Regions from separate parts of the Homo sapiens genome. Here region 1 is linked to region 2. A link means that fine-mapping ties the variant in region 2 to the plasma level of a protein whose gene starts in the linked region. Region 2 holds a variant in brackets. A gene starts in the other region. All regions are shown on their forward strands.

Region 1 (7,561 bases), not on the chromosome of region 2:
AAAGACGCTGTTAATGATTGTCCCCCATTTTACAGATAGGGAAGGTAGAGATCAGTTGGGTTAAATGCCCAGGGCAACACTGGTGGCCAAACTGACAGACCTGGAGTTGTCCAGGTCTGTCTGACTCCAACACTGGATCCTTCCAAAACTCTTCATCACTGACATGCTTAAGGTTCTCTGAGGGGTCACACAACTCGGGCATAGAGGCTCATTCGGATCCAAGTGACTCTTGCTTAGCACATCGTTATGACAAACACTATGCTTTGCTTTTTTTTTTTGAGACGGAGTCTCGCTCTGTCGCCCAGGCTGGAGTGCAGTGGCACGATCTCGGCTCACTGCAACCTCCGCCTCCCGGGTCCAAGCAATTCTTCTGCCTCAGCCTCCCGAGTAGCTGGGACTTCAGGTGTGCACCACCATGCCTGACTAACTTTTGTATTTTTTTTTTTTTGAGACGCAGTCTTGCTCTGTCGCCCAGGCTGGAGTGCAGTGGCACGATCTCGGCTCACTGCAAGCTCCGCCTCCCGGGATCATGCCATTCTCCTGCCTCAGCCTCCCAAGTAGCTAGGACTACGCGCCCGCCACCACGCCTGGCTAATTTTTTGTATTTTTAGTAGAGACGGGGTTTCAGCATGTTAGCCAGGATGGTCTCGATCTCCTGACCTCATGATCCATCCGTATGGGCCTCCCAAAGTGCTGGGATTACAGGCGTGAGCCACTGCGCCTGGCCAAGTTTTGTATTTTTAGTAGAGACGGGGTTTCACCATATTGGCCAGGCTGGTCTTGAACTCCTGACCTCGTGATCCACCTCCCTCGGCCTCTCAAAGTGCTGGGATTACAGGAGTGAGCCAATACACCCAGGCATGCTTTGCTTTTTATTTTTTTAGCGACAGGGTCTCACTCTGTTGGCCAGGCTGGAGTGCAGTGGCACGATCATAGCTCACTGCAGCCTCGATCTCCTGGGTTCAAGTGATCCTCCCTCATCTCAGCTCCCAAGTAGCTGGGACTACAGGTGTGCACCACCACACCTGGCTGATTTTTAAATATTTTTTTAGAGATGAGGTCTCGCTAGTTTGCTCAGGCCGGTCTTGAACTCCTGGCCTCAAGCGATCCTCCCACCTTGGCCTCCCAAAGTCCTGGGATCACAGGCATGAGCTTCGGTGCCTAGCCTTCTTTATTTTTCATTCTCATTTTGTTTTTCTTTTTTGGCAACTAGAAACAAAAGATTGTGGGTTCTTCCTGTGATGCTCCCAGAGCCTCACACATAGTAGGTGTTTCTGTGGGGGAAGGGCACTGCTTAAAATGAAAGCCCTGACCCTTACTTGAATCATTAAGAGCACCATGTTTTTTTTTTTTTTGAGACGGAGTTTTGCTCTTGTTGCCCAGGCTGGAGTGCAATGGCACGATCTCGGCTCACCGCAATCTCCGCCTCCCAGGTTCAAGTGATTCTCCTGCGTCAGCCTCCCGAGTAGCTGGGATTACAGGCACACATCACCGTGCCCGGCTAATTTTTGTATTTTTAGTAGAGATGTGGTTTCACCGTGCTGGTCAGGCTGGTTTCGAACTCCTGACCTTGTGATCCGCCTGCCTCAGCCTCCCAAAGTGCTGGGATTACAGGGGTGAACCACCGCGCCCAGCCTGTATTTTTAGTAGAGTCCAAGAATCGCCATGTTGGCCAGGCTGGTCTCGAACTCCTGACATCAAGTGATCCACTCGCCTCAGCCTCCCGAAGTGCTGGGATGACAGGCGTGAGTCATTGCGCCTGGCCTAACAGCACCATTTATTGAGCACTTGTTGTGTTCTGAATACTGGGCTAAGACTACCTACATTTTCTCGGCCAATCCTGCTTATATGTTAAAGATGAAAAAACTCCGGCTCTGAAAGATGGAGTTTCCTTGCTGGAATGAGGGAAGGCCATACTAGTTAGGCCCAGATTTTCTGGTCTCCAAAGTTCTGTTCCACACTGCCTACCTCTGGAACTAAAGGCAGCCCTGGCAAACTGCACGTCCCCAACTCCCATCCAAAGGGACTTGACATCATCGCTGTTTCCCTCCACTCAGTTTTCCTCATCTGCAAAGTGAGAACGAGAAAGCTCTTTGTCTCCTGGGGTATTGTGAAAGTCAGAGGGGAAAGGACTTCCTGAACCAGGTTGTGTGTGAGTCAGGTACTAGGCACAGGAAACTTGGGGACGCCCATGGGTGGTTGATGCCTCTCTCTCCTGCTGGCCATCAGGGCAGCCCAGGAGTTCCCCTTCTGGAGACCAGAACCTTGTCCATAGGGAAACCAAGGCCCAGAGGAGGAGGGGGTGCACAGGCCAACCTCCCAATGCCTCTCTGAGTCTCAGTTTCCCCATCTGGAAAGTGGACATCATGGCGTCAATGTCATGGGGTTGGCTGGGTGCGGTGGCTCATGCCTGTAATCCCAGCACTTTGAGAGGCTGAGGTGGGAGGATCACGTGAGGTCAAGAGTTTGAGACAGCCTGGGCAACATGGTGAAACCCTGTCTCTACCAAAAATACAAAAATTAGCCAGGTGGGGAGGGGGTGGTGGCCCCATGCCTGTGGTCTTAGCTACTTGGGAGGCTGAGGCAGGAGGATCGCTGGAGCCCGGGAAGTTGAGGCTGCAGTGAGCCATGACTGCACCACTGCACTCCAGCCTGGGTGACAGTGAGACCCTGTCTCAAAAAAGAAATAAAAAATTTAGATTTAAATTTATAAAAACCAACAAAACAAACCTCATGAGGTTGTTTGAGAGGAGTGAAAATATTGTTGGAGACAATATTTTCCCATGAGATCTTTAAACCAAGTTGACCTGGACTCGAATGCCCCCAGCCTGACTCAGTGTTCTACTTTTTTTTTTTTTTGAGACAGAGTCTCACTCTGTCACCCAGGCTGGAGTGCAGTGGCACAATCTCGGCTCACCATAACCTCCACACCCAGCTAATTTTTGTATTTTTAGGAGAGACGGAGTTTCGCCATGTTGGCCAGGCTGGTCTCGAACTCTTGACCTCCAGTGATCCACCCGCCTTGGCCTCCCAAAGTGCTGGGATGACAGGCGTGAGCCACTGCACCCGGCCTCAGTGTTTTACTTCTTTGAGCCTCTGGAAAGGGGCTTCTCGTTCCACACAGAGTGGTTGTAAAGACTCATCCACGCCTTTGTTCGTTCACGCGTTCATCTATTCATTCACAGGGTACCTATAGTGTGTCCGGATCTGTGGGCACTGGGGTGATGCCCAAGACACACAAAAGTCCTGCCCTTGTGGGCATCAAATCCAAGGAAGCAGCAGGAAAAAGGAATAAATAAATATCTAAGACAATAACTAGGGGAGAAAGTAAAGCAGGGGCTGGAGGAAGACAGAGCAGCGGCAGAAGCTTGGGAGGCCTGTCTGGGGAGGTGACCTTTGAGCAGAGACCTGAATAAAGTAAGAGAAGTAGCTGTGACATTATCTAACAGAGCATGTCCAGGCAGTGGGAGCTGCAAGTGCCAAGGTCCTGGGGCAGAAGCGGTGGGAAATGAGGTTTGAGAGGTCAGAGACCCTGACCTGCAGGGAGGAGGGATTCCAGGGTTCTCAGCCGGGGAGGGAGGGATGCGGTGAGATATGCGTTAAAAGGACTCCCCAGGCGGCTGGAAGAAGGGACTGCAGGAGGCAGGGGCAGCCCAGCTTCGCAGAGATGGCAGCCAAGGACAGGGTGATCCTGGCCCCCAGGGAGGCCCCCTGAATGCCAGCGCTGCCCTGCACTTGCCCTCACTGCCCCAGATGGGCGAGGTGGGGTGGACACGGTTCTTGGGCCGGCCCTGATGATTTTCCGGGGCAAACTTGGCTCGAGGGCTCTGTCTCGCTGGAGCCTGGAATCGCAGTTGCGCTTGGGGCTTGGCCCAGGGCTCGCCGGAGGTCTCCGCGTCCGTGCGAAGGAGCCGGCTGAGCGGGCCAGAGCCGAGGAGGCGGGGGCGGCCGAGGGGGGCGGGGGGCTGGGGGCCAGGGGACCGCCCTGGAGGTCCCAGGCAGCCAGCCGCCCGCTAATTCGGAATTCCTTTTGCATGAACTCGGGTGTGCCAGCGTCTCTGCCCCGGCCCACCCACCGCTTCCTGCCTGGGCCCCCCCAACAGAGTGGGAGGCACGGCCAGGCCTGCCCAGACCCCAGGCCCCTCTCAGCCCTTCTAGAGTGGGTCTCACTCCTCCTGCCCCCACCACCCGCCAGCTTGGCCTGGGCAGGAAGGGGCTCTCTGGGGGGTCCTGGCTGGGGGGCGCTGCCCCTCTGCCACACCCGCCTGGCCTGGGCCGGCGTGGCTCACTTGCCAGCAGCTGCAGCTGCCCTCCCGGGGCTGGGCGGGGGACACCGGGCGGCGACGGGTTGTAGGGGGAAGGCAAGGCCAGGCGGGCCTGGACAGACCAATCTCCCACCCCCTTAGCCCCAGCCGGTAAGGTCAGAAGGACACTTTCTCCTCCCGGGATATGGGCGCAACACCAGTGGGAGAACCTGGCCAATTGACTTCCCCTCTCCAGTTCTCAATTTTCTCCTCCATAAAATGGGAGGAGAAATACGTTCTACTTGCTGGGGAGATCAATGAGATGTGATTGCAATCCAATGTCCAGAGGGCTCAGAAGCCTGAAGCCCCCAGGAGCTGCAAAGATGACAGCCCCTCCCAGCTCTGGGGTCCCGGCTGACTAGGCACTCCCTCCAGGCCTCCACAAACAATGGGCTAAGGCGCTGGGGACAGAGATGCACGCACTCCAGGCCAGGCAGGGGAGCAGCTGGGAACAGCCCACTGAGCCGGAGTTGGTGGGGGCTTGGCTTGGTTTGGAGGGCCTCCTAGGGCTCCCCAAAGCAGATCCCTAGGTTGGGCTTTTGAACAGCTCCCTTTTCACTCCCTGCCTCCCCTCCTTTCCCGCAGAGCTGGGGCCTTTAAAAGTTTTTTCTCTCCTCTTTTCCCAATCTGGAGCCACTGCCGTTATTAAAAAGGAACACCATGTGTTTTAAAAGGGAAAAGTGTGAGATTCTCTGCAAGCAGGGCGGAAGGGTGGCCTCCATCCCAGGGTCCCCACGGGGGTCCCCATCTCCCGTCCCGCTGGTACCTGCAGACACTTTACGACCCACCCGCCTGCTGGTCAGGTGCTAAGACACACCGTAAGTAGAAACATATTGCCGAGGTGTGAGAATCTTTTATTTAATTTCTTCCCCCCTTAAAGGAAAAAACACACTTACAGTGCCCCCCCACCCCCTACACCTTCGCCTGCTGCTCTACTGGCTGAAAACAAAGCTTGGCGCTCACAGTGGCACTCACAGGCGCTGCCCACCGCCTGGCAGAGCCGTCAGGGGCCCTGGGAGGGCCCGAGGTAGCCCCTCACCTGAAAGCCAGGGGAGAGCCAGGCTTTCAGCAAGTGCCCCTAGAAGATGCCCGGACCCTGCCCCTTCCCGGAGGAGCCCTACAGGCAGCCCGCAAACAGCCCAGCACAGGGTGGATGAGCCTGGGAGCAGTGTGTGCCCGGCGACCCCCGGGGTGGCCCGTGCGCCTGGATGGGGTGCGTGGAGTGACTGAACATCTGGGGCGAGTGGTGCCTGCCTCTGTGCCCCTGGGTCGCCTCCCCTGTGGGATGTGTGTGACCGTGAATGTGTGTGTCGGGGATGGAATGTGTGTGCGTCCGCGATGGTGCGCGAATGTGCACCTGGGATGCAGTGTGCGCGAGTTTGAGGGCGAGGGTGACGGGCCACAAGCCAGTGTGATTCTTTGTGTGTCTCTGGGTGTGTCCCAGAGCGGGTCTGCATACGGAGACGTATCCTTGCGGGGGTGTTCCTTGGATGGGGGGCCCCAGAGTGCCTGAGGCCAGAAGTCCCTCCAGGGCAGGGGTCTTGGCCCGTAGGGCAGCGGGTTCCCAGTGGGCCCCCTCAAAGTTTGGGCCCGCTGGTGCCCGGACTCACTGGCTCCCGCTCCCTCTCCCTCTCACCCACTCGCTCACAAAGATTCCTCTCGCTGGAGGCTCTCCGCCCGACGCAGCCTGGCTGAAAACGGTTCTAAGCGCCGCCGGTGGCGGGGACTCCGCGGACCCCCGTGCGCCGGGTCCCGCAGGGGGAGGGCGGTGGCGCCGGCCCGTGGAGACACAAGTCCCCCGGGACCCCGGGCTGCGCGCCAGGCGGCCAGAGCGGCCCCCCTGCAGCCCCGCCCTCCCCGTGGGGCTCATCCCTCCGCCTGGGGGGGCCCGCTGGGGGCCCGCACCCAGCGCGCCAACCGCGTGCGCCCCCGCCTGGGAGCGGTGCCCTGCAGTCCCAGGGGCCCAGAGTCCACCGAAGCAGACGCGTGCGCCCGCCACGTCCTGGCATGCAGAGGGTCTCAGGCCGCGATCCCCCCAGCCCCCGGGGGCCTGGCCTGGCGCCCTCGGCCCAGCTGCCCAGGTAACAGGGCCTCGGGCGCGGAAGCAGGACTCTCTGGACAGTGGACTGCGGCGCCGTGTGCCCCGCAGGTGAGGGCGCCCCGAGGGCTGCGCCGGGGGCGCCTTCCTTTGTTCCCCGGCCGTCCAGGTGGCGCCCGCGCCCCCTCCCCCCGCGGCTGCCCCCGGGGCGCCCGCCCTCTGCTCTGGCAGGGGGGAAGGAGTGGGGCGCCGGGTACTCACGGGCTCCTGATCCGGCTCGCGGCGCCCCGAGGACGCAGAGCAGCAGCAGCAGGGGCAGCAACGGCGGCGGCCGCCGCGCGGATTGGGCGGCGGGGCCCCGGCGGCCGGCGGGCATGGGGCCGGCGCTGCCGGGGGCGCGCGGCGGGCTGCGGCTCGGCGGCGGTGGCGCAGGGCGCGGGACGCAGGCCGGGCGCGGGAGGGCGCGGGCCAGGCCGCCCGCACGTCGCTGGGCGCGGACGCGGAGGCCGGAGCAAGTCTGAGCAGCCGAATTGACAAGGCGCTAATGCGCCGCTGGCCCCGCCCGGCCCCGCCCCCGGCCCGGCCCGGCCCCGGGGGGGCGGCGGGCCCCGCACCGGCCTCCCCGCCGCCCGCCCGCCCGCGGGCACCGCGCGCCCCGCCCGTCCCGCCTCCGCCCCACCGAGAACCGCGCGCGCCCTATCCCGCGGCCCAAAGCCCCCTAACTCAACCCCTACCGGCCCAGGACCTCCCTCTCCAACCCTGCCAGCTCCAGGCTTCCCACCCCCAGTCTGGGACCCGGCACCCCCAATCCCGTTTCCATAACCCTGCCCACTTCCCTGCACCCTCCTCTCAGCCCAGTGCCTCTTCAGTGGCCCCTTTGGTCCCCAACCCTGCCCCACTCCTCCATTCCCCCTTCCACGGCCCAATCTTCTGTCTCGGCCCCCACCCCAGCTCTGGCCCCGCCCCCCCCACCGAGCGGTCCTTGAGTCCCGCCTACCCCCATCTCCAGCCCCTCAGCCTTCCCAGGGGCCTAAAAGTCACCCCCAGCCCCACGCCCTCGGCGCGCGGGTTCCAGCCCTCCCACCTCATCCTGCCTCTTTTCGATTCTCCGCGAGTAGCCTCGGCCCCAGGCTTTGCTGGAAGAAAGGAGAAAAAGCAGGAAGGCACGGAGTCCCTCGCCTTCGCCCTGGCTGCGCTGTCCCCTTCGCGCGCGGGATGG
Region 2 (8,000 bases):
GGGCATCTTCTTTGGAAAGGCAGTGCCCCATTCCTTTCTTCCTAGGGGCACGTGAATGAAATGAGACTCTGCCAGTAAACGCCTCAGTTATCCAGCAGGCCCTCTCGAGGTAGCTGCTCAGAACTTAAACACCTGGAAGAGTGGGAAAGGCCTCTGATGAGTCAGCATAGCTGCTGCTGAGGCTTTGTGCTAAAGTCCATGCCCTTTCCTGATGGTAAAGTGCCCCCAAATCCCCCAGGGTCTCTCTGTCATGATTTCTAATTTGGTTTTTAAAGCTGGAACTACAAGTCAGAAAGAGATGAAGCTAGTAGGTATTCATTACATGTGTATATGTTTTTTTAAAATTCAGAATGTCATTGCTGAGTGGTTTGATTTCCCAGCACACAATGGGTTAGAAATAACAATGTAGAATAGAGAATTGGGATGAGAAGGCTGGAGCTAGAAGCAATGAGAAGGGATGGCCAATAGTAGCTGGCAGGTGGAAGAATCATAGTCTCTTCCTGAGCAGCCCGGAGTTCTGTGCCTGGGAATCCAGAACAGTATAGGACTTTCAGAACCATGTGTGACCTAAGTGGTTGACTTGTGGGTTTTTATCCAAAATGAAATGGTTGGGCACCAAAGAGACAGAAACAGGTTATCAGGAAACTAGTCATTGTGGAACTTCTTGGTCCCTAACAATGCTTACTGGTTGTGGGACATGTCCATAACTTTTCCATTCCTTGGTTTCCTCATCTTTATTATGGGAATCATGATGGTACCCACCTCGCAGGATTGTTCTGAGGGTTAGCTGGGTTGTGTCTAAGAGCTCTAAAGCTCTTCTGGGTTCTAAAGCTGTTAGAACAGTGCTGGCCCAATACACCTGTGCTCTTGTTATAAATAGAGTGATTGGGTTTTCCAGTTCACCTGAGCTAATGGGGATGGCCCTCTTTCCGTAACCTGAAATAAATGAGGGTAGATGGGAAGAAGAGGAATGTTTAGGGGAACTCAAGATGACTTGAAGCTAATGTAGTCTCTAGGTGTATTGGGAACCACATGGCATCTGGAGGAGAAGTGAACAGTAACTGACTATGTTTTAGACTACTAATTAATAGAGTCACACTATGGAAAATTTGGAAAGGGAGAGAAGTCAAAACTAAACACAGAAGAGCCTTCCATTCTGAAATGGGACAGAAGTCCCCACAGATTCTCACTGACATTCCGGTTTCTTTTTCCCCTGCCTTACATGCTTATGATCTCCAGTTGACCTCCGCTATAAATTGAAGGGATTGAGGCAAATGGTTTCTAACATTCCTTTGGGCTCTAAAGTTTGTAGTTTTCAAATGGAGAACCAAGGTGTAACTGCCAAGGAGGCAGGTAGGGACAGAGCCTAGGCCCAGGGCTCTGGTCTGTGCTGGCAGCCAGAAGAATGGCCGAGGGCCACCATCTTGCAGTAGCATAGTAGGGTGTGGCCATGTATATGGTAAATACAATTAGGATTTTGTCTGTTGCCCAGTTTTCTAGGGTTTTTTTCACTGCTCGTGCTAATTTTCTTAATAGCAAACCATGCTCTGAGCCTTTCCCTTCACAGAGGGAGGTGTGCTGGACGTACCTCCTTCTCAAGGACTGGTGTGAATATGTATGATGCTTCTCAAGCTGCAAAGAACACATTACTTGAATAGGTGCAAAAAAAAAAAAACTATCAGAGACTGAGATTTAATATTAGCCCCCTGTGCTTGCCTTGGCAGCACATATACTAAAACTGGAACAATAGAGGAGACGAGCGTGGCCTCCGTGCAAGGATGACACACAACGTGATGTTCCAATGTGAAGCGTTCCATATTTTTTAAATTAAAATAAATAGTAATATTAGCCACCAGATGGCAAAGTTGAGGAGTGAGTTGTGAACAATTTCTTTACATTATTGACTGTGGCGGGTTGTTGTAACTATGCCCATGTCTCTTCTATAGGCAAGATGAAGACAGCACATCTAACAAGGATCCAAATTAATGGCATTGTCTCAGCCTAACTAGTGATGAAAGGAAAATAATAGCAGCTTGTAATTTTTTTTAAAAAAAGGTTCTCACTCTTGACCATTTCTTTTACCTCCCAGGAGGACACCTGAATAGTTTAGAGACAGAAAAAAGCATCAACCTAGGGAGGTGGGTAGTGATGAAGAGCAGACACTAAAGCCAACCACCTGGGTTTGAAGCCCAGCTCTATGACGTACTTGCTGTACGTGCACAAGTCGTTTGTCCTCTCTGTGCCTGAGTGTCCTTATCTGTAAAATGAGACTAGTGAGACCTACAACCTAGAATGGTTGTGAGGATTAAATGAGTTAATATATGAGTGCTTTGCCAATATTCTAGTGTGTCCCACCCTCTCAGGGACAGCTGAGGGCTATTTGATATGATGCATGAATGCTGCTCTTAACTTAATTTCCCCCAAAAGATCCCCACTCCAGGGGTTCAGCCTTACCCTTTCCAGCTGGAATCTAAAACTGGATGGAGGCCTTAAAGAGAGGATGGATTCACACCCCCATCATCAGAGTGCAAGTCCACCAGCCCCAGCCCTTCCTCAGCTCAGCCTTGTAGGGGGTACCAAGATCTGAAGGGTCACATCCCTGTTAACTGGCTCTGTTACAATAAATACTAGCGATAATAAATATTTATCAGGTGTACATACCATGCCATATCCTGTTCTGAAGAGTCTTTGAAATTTTAATAGATTTGGTAAAGAATTTTTGAACTTAAATAAAAGGAAATAATTCTGGAACAAAATATGCCCAAGCAAAAGTAAATTGTTTTACATTCTTTTCATATAGAACAGAGAAATGCATACCACCCTTGACAATAGGATCAGAAGAACAAACAGTATCAGATGTTACAGAACGTTTTTGAAGTTTTTCACTGTGTGAGCTGCATGGGTCTGCACAGCACCTCCCACAGTGGTTCTGCATTGGCCAGTTCAACCTCATTTCATACCAGTTTTTCTGTTTGTTTTAAGTAATGTATTCAAAGAGTCTTATAGCGCTGGAAAAGCTTGTTCATTCATTATCTCCTGGCTTGGACTGACTTGGGCCTCTAGATTTAGTAGTGTATCTTAGAGGTTTCACACGTTTTTAATTTTGACCTACCATAAAAAGTACATTTTACATTATGGCATCCACACTATACCCGCCCCCCAACTCCCACATACTCAAACCAAAACACAGGTTCCACCAAACAATATTTTAAGTGTGATATATACTGATATTTTTGTCTAATGTATTTCATCTTTTATAAAATACTGGTTAAAGCCAATACACTGATTTAATGGTCTACTGATATTTGAGAAACTTTGGCCTAATACATATGTAATTCAAGTAGATCTCTCAGGATCAAACAACAGAAAAAGGAAATATTTGCAAACTTGAATAAGATGAGGAGCTCAGTGCTTAGAAGCATCCTAACACCCAGTGAAAGTGGGTGATGTGCAGAGGCGAACACAGGATGACCATTTGGTCCTCCTGACTTCTGGACTCTGGATTTCAGTACTCTACATCTGGGCTGTCCAATACAATAGACACTAGCCACATGTAGCTATTTAAAATTACTTCAAATGTAAATAAAACTTAAAAATCAGTTCCTTGGTGGCACTAGCTACATTTCAAGTGCTCTATAGTCCAACATGGCAGCACAAATGCAGGCATTTCAGTTGGACAGTGCTGGCCTAGATGGAGCAGAAATGGGAGATGCTCAGTGACTGGGCATTGGTGTCTCTATGTGCTAAATGAGGGGATAGAACTGGATCACCTCTAAAATCCCTTCCAGCTCACTGTCTCTGATTTCAAAAGCCCATGAAGCTACTGTGTGAACATGAGGAGTTGGGAAAAATGCCTGAAGACAGAGCTCTGGGAAGCAAAACTGTTTGCCAGAGAGGCAGCTGATCCCGGATTAGAAGAGAGCTCAGGAGTAAGAACCAGAGTTTACCGCAGCATCTGTGTCTGAAAGCCAAAGGAGAGAGGGAAAGTAGAGGACAGAGAAACATGTTGCTTTATTCTGGCAGCCTCATCTCCTTGCCCTTGGTGACAGCAGGAGGGCACTGCTCCTGCTCTTGGTCTGTGGCAAGCAGAGGATGAAAGCAAAGGAGGATGCTTTCTATGGTGCTTCAGCTCACTGCCACCAGGAGAGCCCTTCCCAGAGATTGTTATCTGAGAAATGAGCTGTATAATCTAAAAAAAAGTTCAGCCCTCCCATTGAATGTACGTATTTTTTAGTTGGAAAATCTCTAACAGTTATTACCATACTTTTTTATATAAGTTTTTAAACAATTTCAAGGTAGGATTTATATACAATAAATGCACCCACTTTAAAGGTCCAGTTCAATGAGTTCTGACAAATGGATAACTCATGTGACCACCACCACAATCAAGATACTGAACTTTTCCATCACCTATGACTCTTCTCAGCAATCCCCATTCTCCACCCCTGGCCTCAGGCAGCTGACCTGCTTTTTATCACTATAAATTAGTTTGGCTTTTTCTAGAGTTTCATATCAACAGAATCATTCAGTATGCACTCTCCTTTGTCAGTCTTGTTTTGCTCAGCACAGTGTTGCTGAGATTATCCATGTTGTTGCGTATATCACTTGGCTCCTTTTTATTGCCAAGTGGTATTCCGTTGTATGGAGTTTTCATAATCTTTGTATCCCTTCATCTGTTGATGGACATTTGGGTTTTGGACTATTATGAATAACGCTGTTATGCATACAGTTCCTTTTTGCAGGCATATATTTTTATATTTCTTGGGTAAATATCTAGGAGTGGGCCGGGCGTGGTGGCTCATGCCTGTAATCCTAGCACTTTGGGAGGCCAAGGTGGGCAGATCACTTGAGGTCAGGAGTTTGAGACCAGCCTGGCCAACATGGTGAAACCCTGTCTGCATTAAAAATACAAATTG[G/GC]CAGGCGCAGTGGCTCACGCCTGTAATCCTAGCACTTTGGGAGGCTGAGGGGGGCAGATCACGAGGTCAGGAGATTGAGATCATCCTGGCTAACATGGTGAAACCCCGTCTCTACTAAAAATACAAAAACAAAATTAGCCAGGTGTGGTGGCGGGCGCCTGTAGTCCCAGCTACTCGGGAGACTGAGGCAGGACAATGGTGTGAACCTCGGAGGCGGAGCTTTCAGTGAGCCGAGATCACGCCACTGCCCTCCAGCCTGGGAGACAGAGCGAGACTCCGTCTCAGAAAAATAAATAAATAAATAAATAAATAAATAAATTAGCCGGGCGTGGTGGTGCACACCTGTAGTCCCAACTATTCGGGAAGCTGAGGCAGGAGAATCTTTTGAACCCAGAGGCGGAGGCTGCAGTGAGCCGAGATCTGCCACTGCACTCCAGCCTGGGCAACAAAGTGAGACTCTGTCTCCAAAAAAAAAAAAAAAAATCTAGGAATGGAATTGGTGAGTCCTATGGTAAGTGTATGTTTAACTTTATCAGAAACTGTCAAAACACATCACATTTTTCTTAGGAACTTGATTTTTGGGGGGCAGAAGTTGCTCTTTTGCTTCTGGACCCCTCTGTTCCCATTGGATTTTGCAGACTAGATATTGTAGACAGTCTGAAAACAGGTCGGTGTGCCAGTGGCTGTTAGGTGTAGAAGTTCTGGGTTAAGGACAGGGCCTGTTCTGGGTGAGATGTTACTGGGTTATTGCTTGTATGAAAAGATTGGGCAGGACAGATAGACAGAATTAAACAAATAGTGTTGTGCTCTTTAGAAGAGAATGCATTCAAGGCTGTGGGAAAGGCTGTGCTTGTACCAATTGAGGAAACAGCTAATCCCTGAAGGATGTGAGGTATTTGCCGGGGGAAATTGTTTCCCATGAGGAAAGTGGAGGTCTTCTAACCCAACTCTTTTCTGAACTTCCCGGTCCTCATGGAAAGAGAAACTTAGAGCAGCTCAGTCTGTCAACAACTGAGGATTGTTGTGTGGTGGATACAGAACAGAGAGACTTTGGCACAGGGCCCCTTGCTGCTTCTGACTAGGGCAGAAAATGGAAATGAAATGCCAAAGGTAGTCCCCAAGACTAAAATATGTAAGAAAGTTGCTTTGTAATGGAAATAATAACAAATGTAAGTTGTTATTCATCTATACTCCGAAAACTAGCCAATATAAGTTGCTAGTCTGTTTCTACTTTTTAAAAAGTAAATATAGCTGTGATAAGAATCAAACTTCTGGTCACAGTTTTGCAACAATTTAATTCAGCTAAAGATTAATTTTTTCTGCTTAAATGCAGACATGTACTCTGGTATTCTCTAAATATGCTAAAAGCAACTCAGGTTCTATGGACAAGTTTGGGAAATGCTGTGTTGCAGGCTGTGTATGCTGGCCGTCCTGTGAGAGCACCCTAAGTGTTCTAATGCATTGATTTTTGCATCTTATTAACTTTGTTGGCTGATACATTGCTGCATAACAAACTACTACACATTTAACAGCTTAAACAGCTTAAAATCTCACATATTTACTATCCTACAGTCTCTCTGGGGTCAGGAATCTTGGGACAGTTTAGTTAGGTCCTCTGCTTCAGAGTCTCTTACAAGGCTGCAATCGGAGGTGTTGGTCAGGGCTAGGTTCTTACCCACAGGTCCACCTGGGGAGAGATTCACCTCTGAGGTCATGTTGTTGTTGGCAGAATTCAGTTCCTTGAAGTTTGGACTGGGAGCCTCAGTTGGCTCTTGGCTGGAGACCACCTGCAGTTTCTAGTCTCGTGGGCCTTTCTAACATAGCAGCTTGCTTCATCAAAGTATGCAAGCAGAAGACAATAAGAAGAGTCAGCTAGCACAATGGAAGCTACAACCTTATGTAACCAAATCGTGGATGTGACATCCCATCACCTTTGCTGCATTTGTTCATTAGAAGCAAGTCATAGGTCCACCCAGACTAAAGGGATTACCCAAAGGTGTGAATACCAGGAGGCCATCTTAGACTCTGCCTGCCACAGCTGGGTTGCAGCCAGACCTGCCTACCTCTGAAACCCAATGCACTGCAAATAGTTGCCTGGAGATCCTGGTGAGCAACCCAGCTTCTTACAGAAGTAAGAATTAGTGGATAAGTTTGACACAAATTGTTAAGAATGATCCAGAGTCTTTTGCTCTTCTAGACTTACTCTTCTTGCAGGAAGTGAGAACAAATGGACTGTCAGCTGGAATAGAATTTCTTGTATATCAAGACCAGCATCCTACACAGAGCCCTCAGTAAAACTATTTGCATGAACAGATTTTGGGCTCCATCAGCTCGATTGCCCTACTTTTATAACAAATGTTTATAATATCCTTAATTCTAAGATGAAATCCATAAATAAAATGTCCCTGCCCACATAATTTCAAAATATCAATATGATGTAACTGTAATATACAAAAGGAAAATAATTATAACAAAAACAATGTGTCTCAATATATACATGCTCTAAAATAAAGTGGTTGAATGCTTACTCCTGAACTCAGAATCACTGCTAATGAAATAGTTATAAATGCAGACTGTTACTTGACACTGGGTGTGGAATTAGGGACTCAGATTCTACAATTTGCACTGGTGGTGTGATTTTCCAGGAAGACAAATAATATTTGGAAACATTCTGAACAAAGCAAAACAAAAACCACCCCATAATTTACAAGGAGTTACACTTCTGGAAAATTCAGCGTATGTTCAAATTGTGAAAAACAGAACCTTGTTTTGGAATTAGTTTAGTCTTGAGTAATTATAGATAAGGTTTTTATCTACACGTATGTCATGCAAGACATTGGAGGGCCTTGAGATAATTCATTATACAGGACTCTACTGCATTTAACAGGACAAATGTGTGGGACCTGGCATTTCTCCCTACACACTCCCCCCAATTGGGGAATGCCTCAATTTTGCAACAACAAAAACGCCCTTGGATTTCACTAGTGAGCAGTGACACTTGACATTGCAAACCACTGCAATGGTGCCTAACCTCTAGGTGAGAGGAAAGCAATGCAGTTATAGACTTGGTTGGACACCATTAAG

Which allele goes with the higher level. Positions count from the first base shown, and alleles are read on the strand shown. Strength reflects both the effect of a copy and how common the allele is.
For the plasma level of the protein whose gene starts at base 6,861 in region 1, allele GC in region 2 goes with a lower level than allele G (weak association).

The links. A credible set is the group of variants that fine-mapping cannot tell apart. PIP is the posterior inclusion probability: the model's chance that the variant is causal. The UK Biobank Pharma Proteomics Project read protein levels with antibody pairs (Olink). The fine-mapping took linkage between variants from a reference panel, not from the people measured, so its PIPs are less certain.
Region 1: CRLF1 starts here. The variant in region 2 is the best candidate, but not a certain one, in a credible set for the plasma level of the CRLF1 protein (UK Biobank, PIP 0.64).

What each region holds. Positions count from the first base shown.
Region 1 is chr19:18,599,939-18,607,499 of GRCh38, forward strand. CRLF1 (cytokine receptor like factor 1) reads right to left here and starts at 6,861. Exons shown (of 9, transcript NM_004750.5): 1 at 6,604-6,861. The coding sequence starts at 6,718. RefSeq lists an enhancer at 5,983-6,901.
Region 2 is chr2:64,993,038-65,001,037 of GRCh38, forward strand. All of the region lies in intron 1 of SLC1A4 (solute carrier family 1 member 4), which reads left to right. It also overlaps the pseudogene RNU6-548P. Among named protein-coding and RNA genes, the nearest start is that of SLC1A4, 7.6 kb to the left of the region's middle. The variant G/GC (reference allele first, on the strand shown) is at 4,917.